3 separate regions of the Homo sapiens genome follow, and all the other regions are linked to region 2. Evidence: fine-mapped expression QTL. A gene starts in region 2. Each other region holds a variant in brackets. All regions are shown on one strand. Distances are from middle to middle. Region 1 overlaps QTGAL (queuosine-tRNA galactosyltransferase). Region 2 holds the start of QTGAL (queuosine-tRNA galactosyltransferase). Region 3 has its middle 6.6 kb from the start of METRNL.

Region 1 (10,034 bases), 100 kb after region 2:
TTTCCCCATTGCTTGTTTTTGTTAGGTTTGTCGAAGATCAGATGGTTGTAGATGTGTGGTGTTATTTCTGAGGCCTCTGTTCTGTTGCATTGATCTATGTATCTGTTTTGGTACCAGTACCATGCTGTTTTGGTTACTGTAGACTTGGAGAATAGTTTGAAGTCAGGTAGCGTGATGCCTCCAGCTTTGTTCTTTTTGCCTAGGATTGTCTTGGCTATACAGACTCTCTTTTGGTTTCATATGAAATTTAAAGTAGTTTTTTCTGGTTCTGTGAATAAAGTCAATGGCAGCTTGATGGGAATGGGATTGAATCTATAAATTATTTTATGGCCATTTTCATGATATTGATTCTTCCTATCCACGGGCATGGAATTTTTTTTTTCCATTTGTTTGTGTCCTACTTCCCTGAGCAGTGGTTTATAGTTTTTCTTGAAGAGGTCCTTCACATCCCCTATAAGTTGTATTCCTAGGTATTTTATTTTCTTTGTAGCAATTGTGAGAGTTCACTCATGGTTTCAGTCTCTGCTTGTCTATTATTGGTGTATAGGAATGCTCGTGATTTTTGCACATCGATTTTGTATCCTGAGACTTTGCTGAAGTTGCTTATCAGCTTAAGGAGTTTTTGGGCTGAGACAATGGGGTTTTCTAAATATACAATCATGTCATCTGCAAACAGAGACAATTTGACTTCCTCTCTTCATATCTGAATACTCTTTATTTCTTTCTCTTGCCTGATTGCCCTGGCCAGAACTTCCAATACTATGTTGAATAGGAGTGGTGAGAGGCCATCCTTGTCTTGTGCCAGTTTTCAAAGGGAATGCTTCTAGCTTTTGCCCATTCAGTATGATACTGGCTATGGGTTTGTCATAAATAGCTATTATTTTGAGATACGTTCCATCAATACCTAGTGTATTGGGAGTTTTTAGCACTAAGGGTGTTGAATTTTATTGAAGGCCTTTTCTGCATCTGTTGAGATAATCATGTGGTCTTCGTCTTTGGTTCTGTTTATGTGATGGATTATGTTTATTGATTTGCGTATATTGAACCAGCCTTGCATCCCAGGGATGAAGCTGACTTGATCATGGTGGATAAGCTTTTTGATGTGCTGCTGGATTCAGTTTGCCAGTATTTTATTGATGATTTTCACATCAGTGTTCATCAGGGGTATTGGCCTGAAATTTTTTTTGTTGTGTCTCTGCCAGGTTTTGGAATCAGGATGATGCTGGCCTCATGAGTTAGTAGTCCCTTTTTTTCTATTGTTTGGAAGTTTCAGAATGAATGGTACCAGCTCCTCTTTGTACCTCTGGTAGAATTCGGCTGTGAATCCATCTGGTCCTGAGCTTTTCTTGGTTGGTAGGGTATTAATTACTGCCTCAATTTCAGAACTTGTTATTGGTCTTTTCAGGGATTCGACTTCTTCCTGGTTTAGTCTTGGGAGGGTGTATGTGTCCAGGAATTTATCCATTTCGTCTAGATTTTCTAGTTTATTTGCATAGAGGTGTTTATAGTATTCTCTGATGGTAGCTTGTATCTCTGTGGGATCAGTGGTGACAGCCCCTTTATCTTTTTTTATTGTGTCTACTTGATTCTTCTTTTCTTTGCCTGGCTAGTGGTCTATTTTGTTAATCTTTTCAAAAAACCAGTCATTGATTTTTTTGAAGGGATTTTTGTGTCTCTATCTCCTTCAGTTCTGCTCTGATCTTGCTTGTCTTTTGCTAGCTTTTGAATTTGTTTGCTCTTGCTTCTCTAGTTCTTTTAATTGTGATGTCAGGGTGTCGATTTTAGATCTTTCCTGCTTTCTGATGTGGGCATTTAGCACTATAAATTTCCCTCTTAACACTGCTTTAGCTGTGTCCCAGGGATTCTGGTACGTTGTCTCTCTGTTCTCATTGGTTTCAAAGAACTTCGTTATTTCTGCCTTAATTTTGTTATTTACCCAGTAGTCATTCAGGAGCAGGTTGTTCAGTTTCCATGTAGTTCTGCGATTTTGGGTTTCTTAATCCTGAGTTCTAATTCGATTGCACTGTGTTCTGAAAGACTGTTAGGATTTCTGTTCTTTTGCATTTGCTGAGGAGTGTTTCACTTCCAATTATGTGGTTAATTTTAGAGTAAGTGCTGTGTGGTGCTGAGAAGAATGTATATTCTGTTGATTTAGGGTGGAGAGTTCTGTAGATGTCTATTAGGTCCGCTTGGTCCAGAGCTGCGTTCAAGTCCTGAATATCCTTGTTAATTTTCTGTCTCAAATATTGACAGTGGGGTGTTAAAGTCTCCCATTATTATTGTGTGGTTGCCTAAGTCTCTCTGTAGGTCTCTAAGAACTTGTTTTATGAATCTGGGTGCTCCTGTATTAGGTGTGTGTATATTTAGGATAGTTAGCTCTTCTTGTTGCATTGATCCCTTTACCATTAGGTAATGCCCTTTTTTGTCTTTTTTAATCTTCATTGGTTTAAAGTCTGTTTTATCAGAGACTAGGATTGCAACCCCTGCTTTTTTTGCTTTGCATTTTCTTGGTAAATAACCACGGGTGAGTGGTTGATAGAGTGAGCCAGGCCCCAAGCGGTACTGTTGGGGGGTTGTGGGGGACACACAGACATGGGCACCTGTGACAGCTAGAAGCACGCCACACCAGGGCGGGTCACGGTTCCTGCCCCGCAGAAGCCGTGAGGCCAGCGTGTGTTGGTCTACACTGCCCGGCCTGTGATGAGCTGTCACACAACTAATCCAAGTCAAGTCCAGGCAGAACAACGTGAGCAGAGCCTCTTGGGCACAGCTTTCTGGCAACTACTGGCGCACCTCATTTTATTGCACTTCATTGTGCATTTTATAAATTACAGGCGTGTGGCAGCCCCACGAGAGCAACCCCATCAGTGCCCCTCTTCCAGCAGCACGCCCACTCCACGTCTCCACGTCTCCCCATCTCCACGTGTTAATTCTCGCAATATGTCAAACTGTTACTGTATGTGTTACGGTGACCTGTGGTGTCACTACTATCTCGGGGCGCCCATATGAATCAGTGAACTTGATTGATAAAATGCGAATGTTCTGACAGCAGCTGTCGCCTCCCCGCTCCCCCCCACCCCACCCCTCCTCAGGCCTCCCTATTCCCTGAGGCACAACATTGAAATTAGGTTAACTAATAACCCCACAGTGGACTCTAAGTGTTCAAGTGAAAGGAAGAGTCGCACGTCTCTCGCTTTAAATCAAAAGCTAGAAATGTTTAAGCTTAGTGAGGAAGGCATGTCGAAAGCCACGACTGGCAGGAGAGGCCCAGCTTTCAGCCTAACGGTTAGCCAAGTTGTGAATGCAAAGGAAAAGTTATTGAAGGAAATTAAAAGTGGTCCTCCAGTGAACACACAAATGATAGTGCGGATAGGGAGAAAGTGTTAGTGGTCTGACAGATCAAACCAGCCACAACATTCCCTTAAGCCAAAGCCTAATACAGAGCGAGGTCCCAACTCTCTTCAATTCTGTGAAGGCTGAATGATGTGAGGAAGCTGTGAACATAAGTTTGAAGCTAGCAGAGGTTGGCCCACAAGGCTTAAGGAAAGAAGCCGTCTCCGTAATATGAGTGTGAGGTGAGGCAGCAGGCTCTCCAGAAGATCATGCTACGGTCACAATGGAGGTGGCCGCACTCAACCACAGATCTTCAGTGTAGAGGAAGCAACCTTGAACTGGAAGAAGACACCATGCAGGCCTTTCATAGGTAGGGAGAAGTCAATGCCTGGCTTCAGAGCTTCAAAAGACAGTCTGACTCTTTGCCGTGACTTTAAAACCCATCTATGCCTAGTGTTCCATTATTGGAACGCTAAGCATGTGCAAGTTTATATTCTGCTTAAGGTCACTGCCAAGATCTGATTGCAAAAATTCGAAAAATTGCAACCTCAGCCATAAATGGGTTAAGTTGAAGGCAGTGGTCGCCATTCTGAGAATCCTAGGATTCTTAGGAATGAGGCTAAATCTGCTCTGCCTGTGGCTCTAGAAATGGAACGGCAAGGCCCAGGTGGCAGCACATCTGTGCACAGCACGGTTGATGGAATAGTGTAAGCCCACCGTTAGGCCCAGTGCTCAGAAAAGGAGATTCCTTTCAAAATACGACTGCTCATTGACGGTGCACCTGGTCACCCAGGAGCTCTGAGGCTGATGTACGAGGGGTTCGTGTTTTTGTGCTGACACAGCATCCGTTCTGCAGACCGTGGGTCCAGGAGTCATTCCAACTTTCCAGTCTTATTGGAGAAAGACGTTTTCTAAGGCCGTAGCCGCCAAAGATAGTGATTGCTCTGATGGATCTGAGCAAAGTAATGAAAACCTTTGAATAACCGTTGTCCAAGTTACCGGGGACATTTAGGTGAGTAAACGGGAGGCTCCGAGAAGCAGTTATAAAATGCAAATTCTACACGAATCTGGTTTAGTTTTTCAGAAACAGCCTCTTCAGGATCTACTTCTCAGGGACCCCCTCTCCAACCCCGTCAGTGCCGCTCTTCCAGCAGCATGCCCACTCCACGTCTCCTTGTGGTAATTCTCGCAATATGTCAAACTGTTATCGTATGTGTTATGGTGACCTGTGGTGTCACTACTATCTTGGGGCACTCATATGAACCCCAAGGCACTTGGTGAAAACCCTTCCCAGGGAGCCGGCTGAGCATGGGAAAAGAGGTTCCTCCTTGTCCTGCACACGCTGTGTCCTTGGAGGGCCCAGAGCCCCCACGGTCACCTGTCTCTTGCTTGTTCTTCCAGGGGCAGCTGGCAGTGTGGCCTCACAGCACATGCTTGTTCCATCTCTTGCTCTTTTCACGTGTGTAGATTGGAGGTTATTCCGTGTGAAGCCGCTGGAGCCCCCGGGCTCTACTGTTGCTGTGACTTTTCTATTCAGGGAAATTTCCAGCTTATTTGAGCCATATTAGCAAAGTGACAGGAAACCAGCCCTATGTACCCATCCCTGGAGCAAGCGTGTCCATCTTATGTGTCCTCCACACCTCCAAATCCCCACGCTGGTGTTGTGGCACTCATTCTAGCCTAATTTCATCCATTATTATTTCCCTATCTCAAGGAGATAAAAACTGTTAAAAGGACCATAAAACCACCATCCCACCACAGAATTCCAAATATCCCATCGATGTTCAAATCTTCCTAATTGCCTTATAAATTGCTTCATGTTTTAAGTTTGCTTGCTGGAACCCGGCAGCGTCCGTGTGACCTTTACGACATGACCTTTCTGTCTCCCTGACGCCGACGCTCTTTTCTTAGTTCAGCTGAAGAATGGGCTTGTGTATCCTGCACTCTGCCGACCGGTTCCCTGTGGTTTTGCGTGTTCTGCTCCATCCTTTTGAGAGGTGGTCAGACCGAGGCCGCATCAGGCTCCCCTGCAATTCCGTTTGGCGGGAGCAGCTTGCGGGTCTCAGGGCACCTCGGTGGCACTGTTGTTGTGCCTTCCTCCACCGTTAGCTGGAAGAGTAAAGAGAAACCCAAGGTTCACGTTTGTCACTAAAACACCCGCTCTTCGATTATATGGATGTTTCATGCATTTGTGATACAGTTACTTACTGATGTACCTTTTGGCCATTTTTAATCATCTGCTGTTTAAAATGCTGCTGCAGTATTTGTATATATACATAATTTCGCTCAAGTGGCTCTGTGTGGAATAAATTCTAAAAATTTCTGGGTCAAAGAGCACACACATTCAATCCCAGTCTGGCTGTTCACCACCCGCAGCTGCTGTGCCAACCCAACCCACCAGCGATGGAGCACCTGCCTCGTGCCCTTAAAGGGAGGGAAAGCATCTTCTCACATATTTATAAACTGCTTTATTTCCCCTTCAGTAAATTATTATTTTCATTAGCCCATTTTTCTATTGGTCAGTATTTTTCATAAGGAAAACTCTCCGACATGCTGCAAATTTTCCTGCCATTTGATATTTTTGTATTTTTGCCATTGTGATATAATCAAATTAAGTGACTTTCATTTATGGAGTCTGATTCATTCTAAGACAATCACTCCTGGTTGTGAAATTTAAAAAACAACATTGTCCCATTTTGCTTCTGGGATTTCTAGTTTTTAATTACATCTTTGATACAACTGGAATTTCTTTTGATTACAGATGCCAATTTTTCTATTTGGATAATTGTCCCAACATCGTTTACATCACTGCTTTTCCAGGAACGAAATGCCGTCTATGTTGGTTGTGAACGTGCATTTGGCACCTGGCAGGGCCAACCCTCATGGCGTGTGCGTGAACACATCCCTAAACCATAGTCTAATTTATCCTATTTTTGTAGTTCATGTGAGCAGAATCCAGTGTCTGTGTTCTCGCATCTGGTTTTCACTCCACGTGTTTGGGGTG[T/C]GTGCGTATCGCTGTGCATGGTGTGGACTTTCTCCACGTCCCGTGTGCAAACGCCACCCCACCCAGAGGCCACGCCAGGACCCAGGCCTGTGGGCAGTGGTTCCCGGTTTGCCCTTGCAAGGACGCTGTGTCCTCCTGCGTGAGCATCCCTGCCTCGGGTCTAATCCTGGGAGTGGAAGGCAGGTCGTGGGTGTGGCTGCATCCTCAGCTTCTCTGGATGATGCCCAGGAACATGCCCAGAGCCAGAGGGCCCAGCTGCTCGGCTCCCTCACACTGGGCTGGGCACTTGGTCGCCAGCCGTTTGGGGAGTGTGTTCTCATGGTGGTTTCAGGTGTGAGTCTGACCAACAACCCCCCGTGCCCGCTGGACACTGGAGTTCCTTCCTCTCTGGCGGTGTTTCTCATCAGGGTTCCCCACCGGCCTACTGCACGCTGCGTCTCTCCTGACCTGTAGGAGTCCCCTACACCTCTGGCTGCTCGACTTTGTTGGTTTAATGTTTTGCAAATGTCTTCCTCCATTTTGTGGTTTGCCTTTTCATTCTCCTAATGGAACATGTTGCTTTACAGAAGCATCTAGTTTTAACAGAGTCTTGTTTAAGACGGTGTCAACACGCACTGGGCTGGCCTGGTCCCTGAACTCAGGTGTGTTTCCTTTGCAAACTCTAGAGCAGAGAGACAAGGGAGGAAGGACAGATAGCGGCAGAGTGTGTGGAAATGTTTTCCAGGAAGGATGGCTTTGAGTGACAGCATCATTTGAGTGACAGCAGTGGTAGGTGGTGTAATGGATTCTGATGTGGTGGGGGTAAGGGGCGCAGCCAAGCTCCGATTCCTCCTGCTGGGCCCAAGGACCAAGGACTGTGACAGGAATGCATAGTCCCTCCTCTGTCCTGCCAGAGGCCAGAGACTTGTGTCCACCACTCTGCCGGGCTGTCTTCAGGAACTTGTTCAGGAGGTGCTGGGGTGCAGGGCACGTCTGAAAGGCATTTCTGGACACCTGCTGTGGCCTCATACAGGAGAGTAGGTGACCTGGCCAAGGCCAGCACACAGGACAAGATTAAGCATCCAGGGACCCGGGGTCACAGCCCTCACTCCATTGCAGGGGTGGGGATGACAGAGGCCAGAGGAGATCAGACAGGGGCAGCTGTTGATGGTTCTGAGATGCAGTTTCTGTCTGAGGGGCCTCCTCCCACTCCTGGCCTGTGCAGAGGGGTGGGTGTGTGGAGGGAAGGTGGGTCTGCCCTGGTCAAACAGCAGAGGCATTGCCTGTTAGTCTCATTCCATTCCGAGTGCCCCCAGGGAGAGTCAGCCACCTTATGTAGAGAGGCAAGGCCAGAAGGCAGGGGGGGCCTCCCCTCTGGTGACCAACAGGGCCTGTGGTACAAGCAGTGCCGGCTGCTGCCCTCTCTGGCCTTTGTCTCCTTCCAGCCTCTCCGCTATTAGCAGAGGAGCAGAACACTTGACAGGTGGACACAGGCCACCCCCAACCCCTGGCCCTGGAGGAGGCTCCACAGTGGCCTCCTAGAGCCAGGAGACCGGACTGAGCTGAATCTGCTGCTCCTGACAGGACCTCACAGGGGGCGCCTTTGAGGACAACCTGAGGTCACTGCACTTGCAGGAGGGCCAGGACTTCCTTCACTTCAGCTGACGGACCCATGGCAGCTGCTCCCAGGTGGGTCTTTTCACCGAAGAACCATCTGGGTTTGTTTCTTTATTATGTTTCATTTCCTTTTCATTCTGCTCTTATTCTAATTTTCTTTACAGTTAGTCCTCTGCTTATGTTCAGCTCATTAATTTCCAGCCTTTCTTCTGTAATGTATAATTCACGACTTCAGAATCGCTTAAGCACCACTTTAGGTGAACTCTATCTGTTTTGATTAACTTTTATCTTTCATTATATATTTTATAATTTTCATTATTTCTTTTAAAGAGATGTTTTTAAAAACATTTTTAAAATTTCTGTGTACACACACACACACACTTGGGTTCTGTAACTGTCCATTGGGTCAAGTTTTTCTCCTTCAACCGTGCCTTATGACACTTTATTGAAATGTACCAATTCAATAAAATACACTATGGTAGTAGGTGATCAATTTCTTCTTGAATGTTTGCTTTAGTATCTTCTAAGACTGTGTTACAAATGTAGGAAAGTTCTATCAATCATCTTCCTGTTGAACTGAGCCTTTAATCATCATATAGTAATCTATTCCTAATAACACTATTTGCCTTCCTTTAACTGGAGAACTTTGTCATTAACAGAGGTTTTAATCCATTCACATTTATTGTGTCCCAAAATATTTATTTCTAATTGTGTGTGTGTTTTGCAGCTTGTTCTGCCTTTTCCTCTTGCCATTCTTGCATATTTTGATAGTGTATTTTTTATTCTTGTTCCATTTCTCTCCTACTAGTATAGAAGTTATCTTCCCCATACATTAACTGTTTGTGTGTGACTAAATACTTCAACATGCACCTAGCCAAGCTGATAACTGAATTATCTGCACTCTGTTCCAGGAGAACATAGACTTAAGATGCTCTAAATTCAGCCACCAACTCTGCCACTGATTTATATGCTGCTGTTGTCCATTTTAAGCAATTCTACGTGCTTTAAAAAAAAATCCACATATAAGCCATCTTTCTATGTTTTTATGGTCACAGTTTATTGCTTCCCTTGCTCCACATTCCTCCAACTATCCAACTGCGATCATTTCCCTCCTGCCTAAAGTTTATCCACTAAAGCAGTGGTTCTCAACCAGGGGCACCCCCAGAAGATATTTGGCAGTGTCTGGAGACATTTTTTTTTCTTTTTGTCACAGCTGGGTAGGGGGATGCTGCTTCCATCTGGGATGTTGCTGAACACCCTGCAATAAACAGGACAGCTCTCAAAACAAATGACTCAACCCCAAATATTAAGCCAAGATTAAAAAACCAAACAGATAAGAATGGCATATTTTTATCTAAATGACTTAATTTTGTTCTCTTCTTTAATGTTATGCTGTGGGCACAATTCAAGCAACTTGACAGCTATTTTCTCTCAGCATAATGAAGACCTTGGTCTACTCACTGCTCAACTCCAGTGCTGCTGCTGGGAAATTGGTAGTCGTTTATATCACTCTGTCCTTCTTACAGTTCTGCAGTTTCACTGTGGCAGGTCTAAATGTGAGACTGTTAGGCTTCTGTATCTGGGGACTGTTGCATGTCAGTATGGAATATCTGCATCATTTCATTTCATTCTGAGACCCCAATTACCCAAAGGTTAGACATTCTTCAATGTCTCTTGATGTTGCTGTCATATCTTCCAGTTCTCTGGATAATGTTTTCAGATCTTCCAGTTTTCTAATTCTCTCTTCAGCTGTGTCTAAGCTATCCATTGAGCTTTTCATTTCACTTCTTACATTTCTAGGGGCTCTGTTTTTTTCTAATCTCTTCTTGATCATTTCTAGCCCTTTTCAAAAATGTACTCATATTATAGCCTACATTCTACCAGAGAGGTTTTGTATTTGCATCTTCTGCCCTTGTCTGGGAATACCACTGGTCAGGGCCAAGTCAATCAAATTTTCCACTTTAGGAGTTTTGGGGATCATACAGGTAGTATTAATTCAGGCCACTTCAGGGGAGATAGATTGAGATAAGAGTCTTGCTGCTGTTCCTTTGAAAAAGACTTATTTAGGGTCCCAGCTTTATATAGTGGTCCATTAGATCTG
Region 2 (9,806 bases):
ACCCACTGGCACCAGGCAGGTCATACTCCATGAATTTGTACATTCAGGCTTTTGGTACCCAAAGTTGGTGTTTCCATGGCGACAGGGCCCGAATGGCCATTGAACTCTCCTCTAGCCTGCAAGAGCCAGTGTGGGTCTCAGGCAGCTGACAGCCTCTGGAGGGTGCATGGACGGGCTGAGCGGGGGCATCTTCCTTGCTGGGCACAGCACAGGTGACCAGGCCGGGGTGCAGCTGCACGGCCGCACTGACCACTGAGCAGGTTCTGAAGGGCCGTCTACGTATGCGCTGGGGACAGGACCCTCCCCCATTAATGGTGCCCCGGCAGCCTGCTGTGAGCCCCGCCTTCCACAGCCACATCAGACTCACATGGTCCTCTTTGGGTCACCAGGGACTTTGGGCTGAGTCCTGCACCTTTAGGAGCTGAATAACCCCATTTGTTCTCAGGACCTGGCCCGGGTTCCCCTGCCCCAGCCTCTCCGGCCCCTCTCATGCCCCATGTGGGCTCTTCGCTCTCCCTGTGTAGACCACACCCACCACCCCACATTAGAGCCACGGACTCATCTTTCCCTCCAGACTACGGCAGGCACCACAGCGAGAAATGCGCTTTCTATCACGGTCCAGCACACACTGGCATAGAACGTGCAAAACCAACACAAGCTTTACAAATCAATGCAGCTCTTACTATATGGGACAGACTCACACTTCATCTTTAGGAATTGCCAGTCAGAGCCCAGTGTACTGACCCCATGACCCCTGGTATACTGGCCACAACCTGCAATTTGAAAACTACCCTAGGCCCTGGCACTGAGCCCTTCCCAGAGTGGATGCCCAGGAACGCTTGCGGATTCCATCCAGTCACGGGGACGGCTGGGCTGCCAGCTCCTTCGGTGATCCACGTCAACACCACCCTTGCCTCCCTGGCAACTTGGCGGGCCAGGTGCACGCGGCGGCTTCTCAGTCCAGCGTTCATGTCTGTGCACTGACCGTGTGAAGCCGCGGCACCGAGCACCCCTCAGTCAGCAGTGCAATGTGGGGAGCGCTGGTGCGGCTCCCCAGGCCGGCCAGGTGTCTCGCCTGCATCAGCCGACTTGACTCCACTTTGCCATGAGGAATGGATGCCTCTGTGGACACCAGGGCTGGCATGCCAAGGCCACTTGGCCAGGACGTGGCAGAGCTGAGGGCAGGTCCCGGTGTGGCCCCTGGACTGGCTTCACGCACTGTCCAGATGTGGCTTCTCCCACAGGCTGGCATCACACCTGCTTCTCGGCAGCTGTCTTCCACGTGCGCTGCAGGGCCAGCTGGGGAGGACATCTGAGGGAGGCCGAGGCAGAGCGGGGGCGGCTCCACCTTCGACAGTGACATCAGGGGCACCACAGGGCCCTCACAAGGTCTCATGCAAGACGCAGAGGTGCCCTGGAATGTCCTGCTTCCCATTTATCCTCAGCATTCACTCAGGCACCAGTCGAGCCCAGCCCTTTCTCCCACGTGTGAAAAATGTTATGTTATCTCATGGGAGTGAGTTCCATAAATCACGCTTGGAACCCCCATGAGACGTCTTCCGCCCCTGTTTAGGAGGAGAGTGTCTAATTGAACACGGAACGTTGTTCAGCACAGGCCTTTCCCGTCCACGTCAGCTGCTAACAACACAGGTGCCCCTGCATTGAGCATAACTGGGGCCGCACCCACTCGGCGTCCGCAGGCACCTGCCATCCACTGTAGATTTCCCCAAGACTTGGAGAGCTGTGGGCTTAGGTCACCTCCAAATCCACCTTGAGTGCTGAGTGTGCAGGAGGGCAGCTCCGGCTTGCGGGGCCGTCCCCTGGAGGTGAGGCTGCTGTCTCATTGTGCATCTCCTCCTCCTGCCAACCTGAGAGCTGGCTCCTCTGAGTCAGCCTGTCCCACCCTCCGGGTCCTAACTCCAATTCCTGCAGGGTGGCCTCTGCAGTGAGAAGAGCCTCAGGCCTCGGGACACCTGTGGGATCCTGCAGTCACCACCCCAGGGCCAGGACAGCAGAAGCCCCGAGGCGCAGCTCCAGCTGACAACAAGCAGGGGCTCCTCACTGCTCGGATGGAGAATTCTCCAGGCTTGTGGAGGTCCAGGGTCCAGCCCTCGATGTGGACCCTCAGCAGAGCACGCTGGTCCTGGCCCCCTCCCCGCTCCTTCCTGGCCCCTGCCCCAGCCTCCTGGGCGTGAAACGCTCCATGTGCAAGCCCCTGACTCCGGCTCTGCGTTCTGGGCTCAGGCGGGACGGGGGAATCCAAGACAAACATGGTCCCTAGTACTTGATGCTCACCTAGAATCCACAGCGAGCATCTGCCCGGCTGATGACGGAACGGTTCTGGTGACAGGAACCTCCCCCTTCCTGTAGGCCCAGGGAAGGAGGGCAGGCTGTGGCTCCAGGTCAGTCATGTGGCACTGGGCTTTAACGAGGTAATATTTGCTTGGAAGTTTGGAGACGCTCCGTCAGTCGGATCTCCTTCTCTTTCCAGAAGGCCTGACGGTGCAGGTGGGTGGAGCCAACACTGACTGCGTGCTGACTTGGGCAAGGCGCTGGGTAGGGCTTGGTCCCTCCAAGGGGCCACATGAGGCCGTCCCTTCCCTCTGACGTGTAATAGAATTTCACGGATCTGCAGAACGCCGTCACCTCAACTTCTCTGTCCAGGCTCTGCAATTCACAGGCTTGACTTTCCTTTCGTAGGATCAGCCCGTACCCCCCGGAGCTCCAGGCCGGTACCCCCACCCCTGGCTCAGAATTATCCTCCTGAATTGACTCTGGGTTTCCCTGTGCAACTAGAATCCTACAATCCCCAACAGGTCTGAATCCCAGGAATGTGGGCGGCTGAAAAATGGAACTCGAGGGACCACATCCGCACTTAAGTCTACTGTCCTGAAGACTTTTTCATTTATTTTTTTGTAGATTACTTTTTTAAAAAGCATGGGCTGCAACTCCTTAATAAGTCATTAAATCCACATGGTGAGTCACAGCCTTTAAATAGCTGAGACAGAGTAGGAGAGATGACCTCAGTGCACACATCGCCGAACAGCCAGGCTGCCCTCACGGGCTGCTTTATTATGGGGGTGCTATGGTCACCACGTGCAGAGTCTCCTACAGTCTCGAGCGACCCTGCCCTCCAGGCAGCACCCACTGCCTAGGGGAGGTCGAACCAGGTCTGTTGAGGTTCATCCCCTCTGGAGACTTGGACACACGAAGGTCTAGGGGATCAGGCTGTTGAAGGAACCTGTTGGGCTCTTGTCTTTAAAGCTTGAACTCAGCCCTCACTAGCTGCACTCACATCAGAATCATTCTTACTGGGGACCCAGTGTCCCCCAAGTCTAACACCGTCCGTGCGGACCTGCAGGGAACCTCTGTCTCCCCACCCAGCACCGAGTCTAACACCATCTGTGCGGACCTGCAGGGAACCTCTGTCTCCCCACCCAGCACTGAGTCTAACACCGTCCGTGCGGACCTGCAGGGAACCTCTGTCTCCCCACCCAGCACCGAGTCTAACACCGTCCGTGCGGACCTGCAGGGAACCTCCCCACCCAGCACCGAGTCTAACACTGTCTGTGGGGACCTGCAGGGAACCTCTGTCTCCCCACCCAGCACCGAGTCTAACACCGTCCGTGCGGACCTGCAGGGAACCTCCCCACCCAGCACCGAGTCTAACACTGTCTGTGGGGACCTGCAGGGAACCTGTCTCCCCACCCAGCACCGAGTCTAACACCGTCCGTGCGGACCTGCAGGGAACCTCCCCACCCAGCACCGAGTTTAACACCGTCCGTGCGGACCTGCAGGGAACCTCCCCACCCAGCACCCAGTCTAACACCGTCCGTGCGGACCTGCAGGGAACCTCTGTCAACCCACCCAGCACCGAGTCTAACACCGTCCGTGCGGACCTGCAGGGAACCTCCCCACCCAGCACCGAGTCTAACACCGTCCGTGCGGACCTGCTGGGAACCTCCCCACCCAGCACCGAGTCTAACACTGTCCGTGGGGACCTGCAGGGAACCTCTGTCTCCCCACCCAGCACCGAGTCTAACACCGTCCGTGCGGACCTGCAGGGAACCTCTGTCTCCCCACCCAGCACCGAGTCTAACACCGTCCGTGCGGACCTGCAGGGAACCTCTGTCTCCCCACCCAGCACCGAGTCTAACACCGTCCGTGCGGACCTGCAGGGAACCTCTGTCTCCCCACCCAGCACTGAGTCTAACACTGTCTGTGGGGACCTGCAGGGAACCTCTGTCTCCCCACCCAGCACTGAAGGCTGCTGAGAAGTTCTTCGATTTGGAGACCTGATGTCTTGGTCCATTTGTGCTGCTGTAACAAAATACCTCTGACCATGTGATTGATAAACAGTAGAAATGTATTGCACACAGTTGTAGAGGCTGAGAAGTCCAGGATCCAGGCGCCAGCAGACTTGGTGTTTGGTGACAGCCTGTTCCCCAGAGATGGTACCTTCTATGTGTCCTCACGTGGAGGAAGGGACAGAAGGGCTCCTTCAAGTCTCGTTGAAGGGCACTCGTCCGTCATGAGAGGACAGCCCTCACGGCCCAGTCACCTCCTTAAAGCTCCATCTCCTAACCACATCGCCTTGGGGGTTAGGTGTCAACATATGGTTTGGGGGGACACACACATTGAGACCACAGCACCTACTCCAGGCCCCTGGCAACTGGTACTGAGTCCTCTGAATATAGCCAGTATTCGCCAAAACCTTTTGCACAAACAACAATTAAAAATAAAGAAAACTGGCTATCTGCAATGGCTCTCACTTGTAATCCCAGCAGTTTGGGAGGCCAAGAGCTCGAGACCAGTCTGGGCAACAGCAAGACCCCATCTCTACAAAAATAAAATAAAATAAATAAATACAACTGCCCACTCAGTGAACCCAAAGCTGTGGGGCGTTTTGTGTCACTTCCTCTGCTGGTGCCCACGTGACGTCAATCATCTTTCATCAGCACCTCACTTCCCTCTGAACGAAGACCACACGATCTCCACCCGGCCAGCTCTGAGGCCCCAGGTCCTCCTTCCTGTCTCTCTCCAGGGTACAGTGTCAGTGCCTTCTGTCCGGGCCCTCTGCTGACCTCTCCCCGAGGATCTTCCTACTGCGAGGGCAGTGATCTCAGGCCCCACCACCCTTGGATTTCAGGACCCCACCTCTGCAACCCTGCATTTCTGAAACGCACCTTGGCACTTTGAATGTTCCCAAAAAGGAGATTCTAATCAAATTTGAATTAGGGGGAAGTCAGTGAAAAGCAAATTTCTGGCACCAGGAAATGTACAGGAAGGAAGGTGAGAGGCAAGCCCAGTTCTGGACACCATGTGCTGTGGAGGGGCAGAAGCCATCTGTGACCCCTGACCTCTGGCCCTTACCACCTACCTTATCATGAGCCTACGGCGCATTCTGGCAGCTACAGGGCTACTTTTTACTGAGTCCTTTACAATGAAATGATTCCTAGTACCCCAACCTCTGGAGAACATGAAGTCCCTGGAAGCAAATTCTCAGATAGCTTTTGCTGAACGGTAAATAAGGCTGCATTTTCACTCATGTGACTTAAGCAGTCCACTTGTAAAACAGGCTTTGCAAACAAGGAGGCAATTTAAGGGAAAAAAAACCATCTATGAAGTGATGCTTAACAGAAGTTTGGCTTTGTTGTAACGGTTAATTGACAGAATGATTTGCATTTAATCTTAGTTTTGGACAGCCAAGGATTTGTCCAGGAAGGGCTGCTTACAGCCATGCTCATTAATTGTGAATTACTCATTACTTCAGATCAGCTGGAACAAATCCCAAGCGGGCTTAATCTCTGTGTGCAGGCAGCCCAGGGCTAATGGCAGCAGTCCTTTTTATTGACCCCCACGGCCCTGTCCCCAGTCAACCTCCTCCAAGCAGGGAGTTTCCAGAGGCCTCACAGCCGCCTGGGAGACCCCTCATGGCAGGCTGCTCCCTTGACAAGTTCAGAACTGCTGGGGTTCCCGGCCGCGCGTTCAGGACTCAAATCTGGAGATATCCGCTCTGTGCTCCTCAAGTATAAGGTTAGATAGGGATGGGGCCTGGCCTGTGTTCCTGGCAGGGAAGGCCACCTCTGAGCTCCCCCAGAGCCCGGCCGCCTTCTCCGGGTTCCCAGCCCTGCAGTTCCCAAGGCTGCATGCGGAGGCGGAAATGAGGGCAAAGGTGGAGGGTACCCGGAGCTACTGAGGTCATGTCTTTCCCCAGGCACCCCTTCTCCTGGGGGACCTCACGGTGGGGTCAGGGCCTCACTCCCGGGCACCCCTCCTCCTGGAGGACCTCACGGTGGGGTCAGGGCCTCACTCCCGGGCACCCCTCCTCCTGGGGGACCTCGCGGTGGGGTCAGGGCCTCACTCCCGGGCACCCCTCCTCCTGGGGGACCTCCTGGTGGGGTCAGGGTCTCACTCCTGGGCACCCCTCCTCCTGGGGGACCTCGCGGTGGGGTCAGGGCCTCACTCCCGGGCACCCCTCCTCCTGGGGGACCTCCTGGTGGGGTCAGGGCCTCACTCCTGGGCACCCCTCCTCCTGGGGGACCTCGCGGTGGGGTCAGGGCCTCACTCCCGGGCACCCCTCCTCCTGGGGGACCTCCTGGTGGGGTCAGGGTCTCACTCCTGGGCACCCCTCCTTCTGGGGGACCTCACGGTGGGGTGAGGGCCTCACTCCTGGGCACCCCTCCTCCTGGAGGACCTCCTGGTGGGGTCAGGGCCTCACTCCTGGGCACCCCTCCTCCTGGGGGACCTCGCGGTGGGGTCAGGGCCTCACTCCCGGGTACCCCTCCTCCTAGGGGAGCTAACCCCGGGCACCCCTCCTCCTGGGGGGACATCTCAGTGGGGTCAAGGCCTCAGGCCTGGGCACTTCTCCTGGGGGACCTCGCCCCGGGCACCCTTCCTCCTGGATGACACCCCGGTGGGGTCAGGGCCTCACCCCTCTCCTGGGGCCGTCAAGTGTCCTGCACGCCCTGCTCTCCCTACCGCGTCTGTCTGAAAGGACGCCCTGCAGTCCCCTCGTCCTCCCCGGTCAAGTAGCACAGCCCACAGCCCGGGTGAAATGCAACGACCTTTTACATATCAGCCTTGCTTGAGGCTTTACAGCAACTCCAGGCCGCCTGGCTTGGGTTTGCAGCGCGGCGCCCTCGCACAGCCCCGCCTTCCCCGCGGCGGCGTCTACGGGGGACCAGAGATTGTGACGCGCGCCCTAGGGGAGAGCAGGAGGCTTCCACGGGCCAAGGAGGCGGCTCCGAGAGGTGACCCGGGACCGGGGCGTGGCCCAGGGCGGAAGACTGAGGCGGCGACCTCCCGGCCCCGCCCCGCGCCGAGCAGCCCCGCCCCTTCCACGCCCCTCCGGGAGGCCCACCCCTATGGACGCCGCTCTGCACCAATCGGAGATTGCCTGGCCTCAGACCCGCCTCCTGGTGCCGCCCGCGCAGGCGCCGTAGGCCGAAGCGGCGGGATGAGCGGAGCCGGCGTGGGCGGGGCGTCCGAGGAGAGCCAGGCCATGCAGGCCCACGTGGTAGGTGCCAGCGGGGAGGGTGCCCCGCCGTGCAGGCTGGGTCCTCGCGTCCCCTCACCCCGCCCTCCAGTCCTCTCTCGCTCCGGGGTTCGCAGCCCCGCACCGCCTCTCGGGCTCACCTACGGGGTCTCCGCCCTGAGCAGCCCTTAGGCCCCGCGGGCGAGCGCGGCTGCGCGTGCGGGGGACGCTCGGGATTGGAGCCCGCGGGGCGCGGCCGAGATCTGCAGCTCCGGCTGCGCTTCCTGCCCCCGTCCCGCGAGCGTGGCCTCCTCACCGACCTTCCTCGTTCTGATTTTGAAGCTTCCGGGCTCGGAGCTCAGGCAGTTCCCCGTTCGCCCTCACCTGGTCGTGGGGTGGAGGAACGGCGCACCTGCCTCATCCCCGCCCGCCTGCCCCGCGCTCCTTCCCCGCGCCCGCACACCTGCCTCGCTCCCGCCTCGCTCCTGCGCACCTGCCCCGCCCCCGCGCACCTGCCCCCGCACCTCACACACCTGGTCCGCGCACCTGCGCATCTGCCTCGCTCTTACGCACCTGCCTTGCCCCTGCACGCCTGCCCTGCACACCTGCCCCGCCCCCGCACACCTGCCCCACACCCCACACACGTGCCCCGCGCTCCTGACTCGCCCCCGCGCACCTGCCGCGCGCACCTGCCTCGCTCCCGCACCCCACACACCTGGTCTGCACACCTCCCCGTGCCCCACACCTGCCTGCACACCTGTCCGTGTGCCCCCACACAACCTCGCACCCCACACGTCTGCCGTCACACATTCCCGGCACACTTGCCCATGCCCCACACACACGTCTTGTGCCTGCACACCTGCTTCACACACCTGCTCTGCGTCCTGCATACATGCCCGTGCCCCATACCTGCCCGTGCACCTGCCGTGCACACCTGCCTGCGCATCCCACACACCTACCTGCACACCTCCTCCGTGCCCACACACCTGCCTGTGTGCCCAGCACACTTACCCCAAACACGTGCCCTAAAAACCTGCCCTTAAGCCCCGAACACCTTCCCCGTGCTCCGGCAGAGGCTGGAGCAAAGGCCCTCAGGGTTCAGACCCAGCCAATAGGCCGATGCAGGGAACAACCACAGGGATGTAGGATTAGCAGTCGCCCAAAGGCTCAGCATGTTTTCTGTTTTTTGTTTTTTTGTTTGTTTTTTTTCCAGCCTTTTTTCTTTTTTATTCCAGTCTTACTAAAATTGGTAACAGGTGAATCAAGGTCTATCTTTGATAGAAACATTATATTTTGTAGATCTTGAGAAAAATTATTTCCTTCTTTTCCTCTAAGTAAATCCAAACTAAGGTAAATTTGTAAATAAATTAGGGAACTCGTTTTATTTTTTTTTTAATTTTTATTTTTTGAAATGGAGTTTCACACTCGTTGCCCAGGCTGGAGTACAATGGCGCGAGCTCGGCTCACCGCAACCTCTGCCTCCCGGGTTCAAGCGTTTCTCCTGCCTCAGCCTCCCGAGTAGCTGGGATTACAGGCATGCACCACCACACCAGGGTAATTTTGTATTTTTAGTAGGGACGGGGTTTCTCCATGTTGGTCAGGCTGGTCTTGAACTCCCGACATCAGATGATCTGCCCGCCTCGGCCTCCCAAACTGCTGTGATTACAGGCGTGAGCTACCGCGCCCGGCCAGAACTCGTTTTATTCTTATTAACCTAAGTCCAGGAAGAGACAGAGTGAGGTTTCATTTGTAAAGAACTTGACTAAATTGTGTTTTCAACACAATTTCAACTTTTCTTTTTTGGATATAAATTAAGGGTGAGGACAGACTAATCTCTTAAGTATCGCTCCGTATCACTTAATATTATAATGTATGAAATTAAGACTTAACTCCTGTAATCAGTTGTTTTGTTGGCATTGAATTTCCTGGTTTTACTCCATCCCACTTTATAAATTTTTGTTTTGGGCTTCATGAGAAAAGGACAATGAGAAAAGGACACTAGCTACACTAGCCCGAAACGAAGTGTAGGACAAAGGAATCGAGAGATGGACGTCAGGCCTCCCATTTGCTCAGCTGGGTTCTTTGAACACCTCCTGCCCGATACTTTGTTAAAACATTGTTTTTTGTGGGCTGAGGGGTTACTTAAAGGGGTTACTTTGTTGCAGGTTTTCTAACATGGTTTGCCGAAATGCTTATTCCACCTAGAACATGACCAGCCAGCACCTGTAATCCCAGCTACTCGGGAGGCTGAGGCAGGAGAATGGCGTGAACCCGGGAGGCAGAGCTTGCAGTGAGCCGAGATCGAGCCACTGCACTCCAGCCTGGGTGA
Region 3 (10,034 bases), 19 kb before region 2:
CCCGTCTGCTCTAGGAGTGCACCTCCCCCCACCCCCATCACTGCAGGTACCAGGGTGCCCAGTGGAAAGGGACCTGCTGTGGAAAGGGACCTGCTGTGGAAAGGGACCTGCGGCTTCACACCTGTGCGCAGCAACTGCTTTCCATGCCCACCAAGCATAAGATAGCAGCCCCCCCAGGCCCGGTCCACCCTTGAAGGGCCACATGGCCTATCAGGGTCCAGATCATCACACCACGGAAGAGGCAGGGCAGTGCTGGGATCTCTTGAGTTATAGATGCGGACATGGGGAACTCAGGACCTGCCGTGACCTGCTCAGGGTCTCAGAGCCCCTGGTGGCTGCTAGACCGAAGGGGAGAGGCCGCCTCTGGTCAGCAGGCAGCTGGTTCCAGCCTAGGCTGGGGCAGAGATCTGCCACCTGGCAGGATGCCCAGCCTCCTGTGCCCAGCGGGCTGTCCTAAGACTGGGATCGTACGATGGTGAGTATGGGACCCACGTGTACTTTTCAAAACCCGTAGAAAATACAGCACAAGAGTGAATCCTGATGGAGGCTTGAGACATTTGTAATAATAACGGATCAATATTGGTTCTTTGACTGTCACACGCCTACACCCTAATGAGAGAAGGTAATCATAAGAGAAACTGGGTCAGGGAGAGGGTGTGTGGGGGACCTCTACCATCTGCTTGGTGTTTCTGTAAACCTAAAACATTAAGTCTGCTAATTAAAACAAAACAAAACTAGAGTAAGAATGCTTGCTGGCCAGTATTCTCGGAAGAAGCTAATCTGTCTTGGGAAAGGAGCCTGGCCCTTTCCACCCTGGGGCTGTGGTTCCCCAAGCTGTTCCCTTGAGGAGGTTCATGCCCCAGAGACATTGGGTGCTCCTGGGCACCTCTGCTGACCCCTGTCCTGGCCCAGCGAGGCCACCTACAGGTGAGACGTCCCCTGTAGACGGGGTTCCTGGTGTCAGGAGGTATCAGGCTCCTAGAGGATGCAGGCTGAGGTGGTCAAGGCTGTCTGGGGGTGTTCCCAGCCACTGGTACACTGCCCCTTGTACCACCAGACCCCGAGAGGCCGATTATGAACCAAAAGGATCCCAGCTGGTCATGGTGTGTGGCCCTCCCCCTGGTCCTCTGGGAGGGTCTGCAAGGAAAGGGCCTTGGGTGTGTTTGTCCCTGGATGTCTGGGAAGGGACTGCTTCCCAGTGAGCATGTCACGGGGTTAGACCCAGGAAGGGGCCACAGCATCATCCCACCCACCCACTCGTGGGAAGGAGCTGGTCTTCGCAGCTTTGCGTGAAGCTCTGATACTTCCTACCTGAGTCGGAACGTTGAGGCTGAGCCGTGGAATCGGAGAGCTCCAGAACCCACCAGGATCACGCCTGCCCATTCCCTCTACCGGCGGGCCCTGCAGTGATGCTTCTGCATCCTGGGAGATGGCAGCTAAGGGACCTGGGCCAGGGGGGCCTGTGGCCCAACCGTAGGTCTACATCAACCCTCTCTCTTTCCTCATCTATCCATTCCCTCGAGAAACAGCTCTCAGAAGCCTCCTGGGCAGACGTCCGTGAAAAAAATTCTGGGTGCACCCTGGACAGTCCTTCTGTGCCTCACCAGGGTCTGAGGCCTCAGAAAGCAGGACGTGGCCTCCCATGTCCGAGGACCACGACCCACTGTTAGGATCGAGTGACCTCGGCAGGGTCACCTCTGTGTATTTGACCCGGGAGTTTTTATCGCGTGCATTGCAGGGACCCAGCACCTGGGAATTTGCTGGGGTGGAGGGCTGTGGGACTGGACCCCTTTCTCGGCCTTTCCTATGCCGGGTGCCTACAGGCCCTGTGGGGTGGTGGACGGACCTGGCTCGGACGTCAGCCCCCAGCTCTGGGTCACAGACATGGTGGGGTTGGAGTCTGTTTCTGAGCCTCAGTTACCTGCAAAGTGGATCTGTTCTTGATTCCCAGGGCGTCGTAGGGTTTACGATGTCAGGATTCAACGCCACGTCCCCAGGTGGGGGCTGATTCTCACCTGTTCAAGGCACCACCGGGCTGTCATCAGGCCTTGGGGCCCTCATGGGGCTGGGTGGGGGGAACCCCTCCCGCCGTGCTCCCCACAGCTGCGAGTTCTCTGAGCCACTGGCACAACCCGGTGGACTTTACTGCTTTTATTTTTGGCCCAGTCTTGAGGTTTTCAAATGTGTGTTGACGGCCAATGTGCTGCCCAAGATGACCAGTCACCTGAATCCACTCACTAAAGAAACAGCTCCTCCCAGAGTAGCTGGATTCCTCCAGAAAAACATCACACGGTTTCCCCAAGCGCGTCCATGAAATTTTCTCTTTCAGCATTTGAAAAATACTGAAGAACGTCGCAGTCTGTCGTTCACGTGAGCACAGTTCATCCCACGGCCCCGCCCAACCACCACCTCCCAAGTCATTTGCCACCCGTTTCCCTCCCAGGCCATTTTCGCCAACCTTCTCGTAATTATCGTAATTGTGGTTGAATGATACATGGAGAGCCTGTGCTTGTAACTCAACTTCAATGAGCAACGTGTAATTACTACACGAAACAGCCACGGATGCCAGCCAGCCTCCACCTGATGACCTTCAGTGTGTCATTCTTCCCTAACCCCCTCCTTAACCTAATTTGCTGCCATGTGCTGCTCTCTGTGCGTCAGAGAAAAGTGGGAGTAGGGAGTTTCCTTGAGTCAGATACAAGTCCAGGCCGATGCTGGCCGGCTATGTGACCTTGGGTGGTGCTTGCCCCCAGGTTGGCCAGGTGGAGAGAGGCCACCAGCCGCCAGCTCGGCAGTGAGAGACAGTTCTGTGTGGCACGCTGGCCCCACACCGTCCTAGCAGTTGTTTGTAGCAGCTGTTCATGGCAGCATCTCACCCTCCGCCCGGCCATGAACCGACCATGGCCCCAGGGCTGGTGAGCTGTAGTGACTCTGCCATCTCGGGCACTCAGACCCCACAGGGAAGGAGGGTCCTCGGCCTCCGCGGGGTGGTGTCAGGAGGGGCCATCTACAGTACACGGTGGATTTGTACACAGAGGTGGACGTCTGCGTGGACCCTGACCACGGCCGGTCAGATGTGCTCAGGGGCAGGACCGTGAGCCCAGTGATGACGTGCTAAGGTCCGGCCGGCCGGCCACACACAGCAGGTCTGCGGTCACCCAGGACGTCAGCCGAGGGCCTCAGCCCACTCGTTCTGGAGGACGCTCACGGCAGAAACGCCTCGGAAGGAGCCGGTATCCCCACGGCCTGCGGGGAGAGGGAGTGTCCCATATGCCAACTACCGAAGGCCTGAAACTCACAAACGTTGAAGGCCAGTGTGCAGGGCACCCACGCATCCCCCGGCTGCGGCCGAGGGCTGTTCCTCTGTTTTGGCATTTCCCCTGAGCCACGTGGGAGCTGCAGAGGTTGTGACCCTTTGGCCCTAATCATGGGAGCAGGAGTCACCCCTCAACGGGGACAACGTATGGTGCCATCCAGCGCCGTCGGCACACCCAGCTTGCCGTGTGGAGACGGTGCCCCTCCATAGAGTAAATGCACGCCGCCTTGTTCCCCGTGGGCCCCACACTTGACTGCTCATCACCGGGCTGGGCCCCCTCTGACAGGCTGGGCAGGGCACAGGGTGGTCCCTCCCAGGGTTCACTGGTTGGCATCAGAGACCAGAGCCCCGCTCCGTGGCCCTCCTGGCAGCCCGCCCCACTGGCATCTGAATTCTGGAAGGCACCTCTCCCAGGGCCACCTTGGCCACCCTCTAGAATAAACAGAAAGAGGGGGCTCTGCTGCCTGGGGCTCCTCGTGGGCTCAGATCGGTCGGCGTGTCTCACTGAACAGTTTGGGCTCCTTTTTTCTTGCAAGTTTATAATCGAAACGAAGAGCTTTTTTTCTCTGCTTCTGTGGCCTTTGGTTTCATGCTACAGGAAGGCATCTCCCAGACCCCAGTGGGGCCTGCCGACAGCGGAGGCACGTGGGGGTGTGCGAGGGGCTGTGCCCTGTTCTTGCTGTGCCCCTCTGCCCCTGGCACCACCCCGAAGGAGGCAAGGCCTTGTCAACATCTGTTAAGCCGGGAACCGGGGACCGCCCAGGGTCAGATGGGCTGGAGTAGCCACACTGCAGGAAGCTGAGGGCAGACAGAGCTCTCTCCTCCCATACCCCACTGGGCTGGGTGTCCCGGGGAGGGTGGACGTCCAGATGCTGGGGCACCTAACCTGGACCGGGCTGGGCAGCTGCCCAGCGCGTGGGGAAGGGCGGGACCGTGGTCGGCGCAGTCACCACCAGGACCTGCCCCGCCGGGCGGGGTTCTGCCTCCTCCTCCAGTCCACAGGGCGAGTCTCCACGGACAGCCCCAGGGACAGGCCCTCCCCACATCGACGCTGCGCCTGGATGACTCAGCCCAGGCAGGCGGGGGTGGCGGTAGACACCCTCACCAGGAGCCTGTCCAGTGGGGCCCTCCCATGCAGGTAATTAGCCCGGCTGTCCTGCCCCTGAAAAGAGGCCGGGTAGCCCAGAGCTGCCCCCAGCTGGAGGGGCTGAGAGCTCTGGCTGTGGAGCGTGCGTGGGATGCGGGGGCGCTGGAGGCACAGGGCAGCTGTCTCACATGTCCGTCCCTTTCTGCCCACGCTGAGATAGTGAAGAAGGCCTTGACAGCCATTTGGACAGACGGTCCCACCCAGAACGAGGAGAAGCAGGCGACACCCAGCTCAGCGGACAGTGGGCAGGCACACTGGCAGGCAGGGTCAGGGGATCTGTCTCCCGAGTCACCTGTGTGCCAAGACACCCCACTGCGTCCCCAGGCTCCAGGGTTTGGGGAAGGGTGTCGGTGGGGCTGGGCGTGCAGGGAGCGTCCGGGGGCCAGGTCACGTGGACTTGGCCGATCTTGGAGAGAGAACTGGACCCCCACAGTGTCGAGTAGATAGGGGCCCAGCGGGGTGGGGCCCGAGCAAGTGAAGGCGGGGGTGGGGCAGGGCCTGGGTGTGCCTCCCCAAATCCAGCCAAGCTGGAGTGCACAGGGTCACCCAGGGATGCTGGCTTCACGCTCTTCCTCCAGCCATGCCTGCCTGGACTCGGCGGAGGAAACACTCCCTCCAGAAGCC[C/G]CTCCAGGCAGGCAGGAGCGAGGCCAGCTGGTGGGCTTTCTCCTCGGGAGTGGAGGGGTCCCTCCCGTCCACACGGCAGGTGCTGAGCACCCTACCCCAACCCTGCCTGCTGCAACGTGCGGGCCCAGCCTTGGCGCCAGCTGTCCCAACAGGGACCTGAGGACCCATGTGCCTTCTCCTGGAGAGGTGGCCAGGCCTGTGCCGGGGCTCCACTCTACTCCCAGTGGTGCCAGGAGGTCCCTGCAGCCCCAATGCCAGAGCTGTGCCTCCGCTGAAGCTTGCGGAAGTGAGACGGCCCAGAGGGACCCGCTGTCCAGACCCAGGATGGTGGACTGTGCGTCCTGGGCCTCAGTTCAGGCTCATGAAAGATGACTGAGCCCCCTCCGCCCCCGCCCCACACCCTCCAGCCCCCACACCCCACCATGCCCCGCACCGCACCAGCTCCCCGCATAGATGCTCCTCCTTGTCAGCCTGGGCCAGAGCCAGACAGGACCCACAGAGGCAGGGACCCCTCCCCAAATCCTAGCTGGCAGTTTCAGTCTTTAAGCACTGTCTGGGGGGTTGTCAGTGTTGGTGGGGTGCACTCCTGTAGGGCTGCCTGGAAGAGGTGACCTACATGCGTGCACAACTGTTCAAGCAAGGGTGAGGAAAAGGAGCAGCTGGCACTGTGCACTGTGTGGGGGTGCAAGGAGACCCAACCCAGCAGGAGTCAGGGCAGGAGGCTGGGGGCAGCCTGACCCCACGTGGAAGAGCTTGGGGTCATGAGGCTGCTGTCACCAGGCTCACAAGGGACTCCAGTGAGAGAGTAAAGCGATGAGGTCACGTGAACTGAAGAAACAAAACCACAGATCTTTATATGCAGTGTGGCAACAGTGACAGGAGCCAGGGGAAGTCTCCCCTCGACTCCACGGTGGAATTTTAATCGTCCCCAATTTTTCTACAATGACTAGGTATTGCTATTATGATGAGAAAACAAATTATTTAAAAAGGAAAAAAAAGAAAAAAGGAAGGAGGAAGGGAGGGAGGAAAGATGGAGGGAAGAAGAGAGGGAAGGAGACAGAGAGAGAGATTGTTATGAATGATGGGGGGGGACACAGTTTACCCAGAAAACAACTGCAGCCTCATGGGGCCTCTCAGGGGGCCAGGCCCAGGGCGTGGCTGATAGGGAGGTGGGCCGAGGGGCACTGGGAGCCCATGCTGGGCTTAGTGAGGTGGTGCAGGTTGGCTCGAGGAGTGCCCACTGCTAAACTGCGTGACTTGGTGGCGATCAACCCTCCAGCTCCCCATCTGAGAGCGACTTCATGGTGCCAACCCCACAGAGTCGTGGGCAGGTTCATGGCCCAGCTCAGTGGGAGGGAAGCTCCAGCTTCCTATGTACTTTGGAGCATGGGCCTCCCATTCCGGCCTCCCCACTCCCTGCCTCGACCTCAGCAGCCCTGTCCCCGTCCCCTCACAGCAGTGGCTGCAGCCACCAGGATCTGCCCCTTCCTCACCACCCTCTGGCTCTGTTCTACCCTCCGGAGCATGAAGGGCCGTGGGGCGCCTGGTGTCTGCGTCCTGTCCAGAACATGTTGGTGGACAGCACCTTCCCCCCCAGCCCTCCTGACTCTGAGAAGCCTCCTGCCTGCCAGCCTTTTGCGTGTCACAGAGAAAACAAGGTGAAGAAGATGATTATTTGAGTCTAGAGAGCTAATTAAAATGTTTAAAAACATACTTTTTAAGTACAAAAGTGAATATGCTTATTGACAAAGTCTGTTGTTCGGGGTTTCTGAGAGAAAAAAGAAAAGAGGGATTTCCCCTTTGACTTCCTGGCCCTGTCCAAGGGCTGGTACAGGCTCCCTGAGACTCCCTGGGCGTCGTGTGTGCACGTGTGTATGTGCATGCGTGCTCGAGTGTGCATTGTGTGTGTGCGCTCATGTGTATGTGTGCATGCCTGTGTGCACGTGTGCGTGTGCTCGAGTGTGCATTGTGAGCGTGTGCGTGCTCATGTGTATGTGTGCATGCCTGTGTGCACGTGTGTGCGCTCGAGTGTGCATTGTGTGTGTGTGCTCATGTGTATGTGTGCATGCCTCTGAGCATGTGTGCATGTGTGTAGAGCCCTGCATGGGATTTGGCCCACAGTGGTTCCATTTTGACTCTAATTTCCAGCAAAAACTCTGCAGAGCTCTGGTCAGCAGCCGCGACTCTGGCGCCAGTGCCTGTGGGGCAGGATCTGGATTTCAAACTCAATTTCAAAAAACAAACCATAGCTGAGTCCACTACAAGGCAACAGGAAAATAATGAGTGGCAGAGTGGGGGCTGGGGGGCATGACTTTATTTTTCGTGGTCCAGTGGTCGCCTGGGCGATGCCGGCCTTGGAGGGCGCGGAGGAGAAAGGCCTAAGAGTGTGTTGATGTCAACAGGAAGCGCTTTTGTGGGCGTCTTTGGGCATCGTCTGTTCTCACTGCTTTCAAGTCCAGTGAGGGGCAGGCAGAGCGGCTGCCAGCTCCCTGAGTGACCAGCATCTGAATGTCCCCAGGCTGCTTGCTGGGCCACCTCCCAGCCCTGCCCACCCCGTGGTCCCCTCCTGACCCTTTCTAGGTGTCTCAGGCCCCCAAGGCCCCACAGCCTCCCCCCCTGCGAATGAGGAGTCATCAGCACAGCTCAGCAGGGACCCTGAGAGGCCAGAGGCCAAGCCGCCGCTCAAAGTGGAGGTCAGGCCCGCGCTGACCGGCTGGGCTGGGGGGAGCCGTCCCTGTCCCGTCCACTCCCCGCGCCCCGTCCGCCAGAAGCCTCCGCAGTGGGGCAGTCCCAGCCCGTGCCCCTGACCACAGCCCTGAGGCAGACTGTCCCGGCCACCTTTGGGCCCAGCACGCTCCCTCCCAGCCCTGCACACACGGGGGCTGTGAGCTTGTGCACCAGCAAAGGCTGTCATGCAGCAGTGGGGACCCGGAAGGATCAGGGCTGGAGCGTCCTCACGGGAGGCATCCCACGTGGCTCACCTCGGCACTGGGTGTCTGCCTCTCACATCCTGCGGCTCCCACCACATGGGCCCCGTCCACTTCAGGGTAGACCCCTCCTGGCAGGTTCTGTGCCCACAGCCTGACAACTACAGGGGCAACTACAGCCCCTGACCCTCCTTCCCTGGCTTGGAAGAGGGATGAGAAGCCGCTGGACAAAGGGGCATGACAGGCATATGTGAGCGTGTATGAGCGTGTGGGAGCATGTGGAAGCATGTGGGAGCATGTATGAGCATGTGGGAGCATGTGTGTGCATGTGGGAGCATGTATGAGCGTGTGGGAGCGTGTGTGCGCATGTGGGAGCGTGTGGGAGCATGTGGAAGTGTGTGGGAGCATGTGGAAGCGTGTGGGAGACCCAGCAGGTTGGGGAAGGACTGGCCCTTGTCCCAGCTCTGGCACCCATGTTAGCTTTTGGTGAGGGACACAGTTTCTAGCACCTTCTGAGAAAGGACCTGTTTGAGAACAGCCAGACCCTGCCAGCCCCCACCCGGCCCAGCCCGGCTCTCAGAGAGGATGGGGTGGGACCCCATGTTCAGCGCTGGCCACCTTCGGGCTGCTCCGACAGCATGGGGTGGTGGGCACAGAGCCCTGCCCGTGGGGGTTGACACCTGACCCAGTCACCCTCGTCATGGGGCTGACGACGGCACCCATCCCGGGCACCCCTAGGAGCACAGGGGTCAGGCCTGTGTGCGGACCTGCCAAGTTCTCTGGGTTTCATTTTGTCCCCACCCCGCTGCATTCTCTCTACTTGTGCACACGTGATTTCCACAAATGATAAGCAGCCTCAACCATTTCCTGAAAAATTGGGGTTTTAGGTGAACCTCGGGGATGTTTTTCTACTGAAAAAGGTGAAATTAGGGAGATGCCTCCTCTAGGTCCGGAGGGGGACTCTGGCAGGGCGGCCGCCAGCCCTGCCTCTTGGGGTCACCGCGGGAAGGTGCTGGGTCCTGCTGTCCTCACATGCAGATGCGATTTCCACCACGGCAGCCCCCACGGCTGGGCTTACTGGGCCCGCGTGCCATGGGGGGAGCACCCGAGTTCCAACCTGCAACCCCCACGGATCCCACCCTGGGAGGACACCCCCATTGTCGCCCCCGCTGTCGCCTCCCGGGACCCCCGCTGCCGCCCCCCGCTGTCGCCTCCCGGGACCCCCATTGTCGCCCCCGCTGTCGCCTCCCGGGACCCCCGTTGTCGCCCCCCGCTGTCGCCTCCCGGGACCCCCATTGTCGCCCCCCGCTGTCGCCTCCCGGGACCCCCATTGTCGCCCCCCGCTGTCGCCTCCCGGGACCCCCGCTGCCGCCCCCGCTGTCGCCTCCCGGGACCCCCGCTGTCGCCCCCGCTGTCGCCTCCCGGGACCCCCGTTGTCACCGCCGCTGTCGCCTCCCGGGACCCCCGTTGTCACCCCCGCTGTCGCCTCCCGGGACCCCCGTTGCCGCCCCCGCTGTCGCCTCCCGGGACCCCCGTTGTCACCGCCGCTGTCGCCTCCCGGGACCCCCGTTGTCACCCCCGCTGTCGCCTCCCGGGACCCCCGTTGCCGCCCCCGCTGTCGCCTCCCGGGACCCCCGTTGTCACCGCCGCTGTCGCCTCCCGGGACCCCCGTTGTCACCGCCGCTGTCGCCTCCCGGGACCCCCGTTGCCGCCCCCGCTGTCGCCTCCCGGGACCCCCGTTGTCACCGCCGCTGTCGCCTCCCGGGACCCCCGTTGTCACCCCCGCTGTCGCCTCCCGGGACCCCCGCTGCCGCCCCCGCTGTCGCCTCCCGGGACCCCCGCTGCCGCCCCCCGCTGTCGCCTCCCGGGACCCCCGCTGTCGCCCCCGCTGTCGCCTCCTGCAGGTGGGATTTCGGGAGGTTCTTGGGTCATTCTCATCCCCGTGGAGGCTCAGGCTTCATTCCTTTAGCGAAACCTCATGTGTTTCCCGCACTTCCAAAAACGTCCAGCTGGAAGCCCT

The links. PIP is the estimated chance that this variant, and not a neighbour inherited with it, causes the effect.
Region 1: its variant is the best candidate, but not a certain one, in a credible set for the expression of QTGAL in tibial nerve (GTEx, PIP 0.81).
Region 3: its variant is the best candidate, but not a certain one, in a credible set for the expression of QTGAL in whole blood (INTERVAL, PIP 0.60).

Annotation. Positions count from the first base shown.
Region 1 is chr17:82,944,850-82,954,883 of GRCh38, reverse strand. It overlaps QTGAL (queuosine-tRNA galactosyltransferase), which reads left to right. Exons shown (of 13, transcript NM_001009905.3): 12 at 7,901-8,005. The coding sequence ends at 7,981. TBCD (tubulin folding cofactor D) reads right to left here. Exons shown (of 39, transcript NM_005993.5): 39 at 8,970-10,034. Among named protein-coding and RNA genes, the nearest start is that of QTGAL, 100 kb to the left of the region's middle. The variant T/C (reference allele first, on the strand shown) is at 6,338.
Region 2 is chr17:83,049,450-83,059,255 of GRCh38, reverse strand. QTGAL (queuosine-tRNA galactosyltransferase) reads left to right here and starts at 7,486. Exons shown (of 13, transcript NM_001009905.3): 1 at 7,486-7,519. The coding sequence starts at 7,505. LOC124904094 reads right to left here and starts at 8,069. Exons shown (of 4, transcript XR_007065967.1): 1 at 8,011-8,069.
Region 3 is chr17:83,068,024-83,078,057 of GRCh38, reverse strand. No RefSeq gene overlaps it. Among named protein-coding and RNA genes, the nearest start is that of METRNL, 6.6 kb to the left of the region's middle. RefSeq lists an enhancer at 7,866-8,418. The variant C/G (reference allele first, on the strand shown) is at 5,088.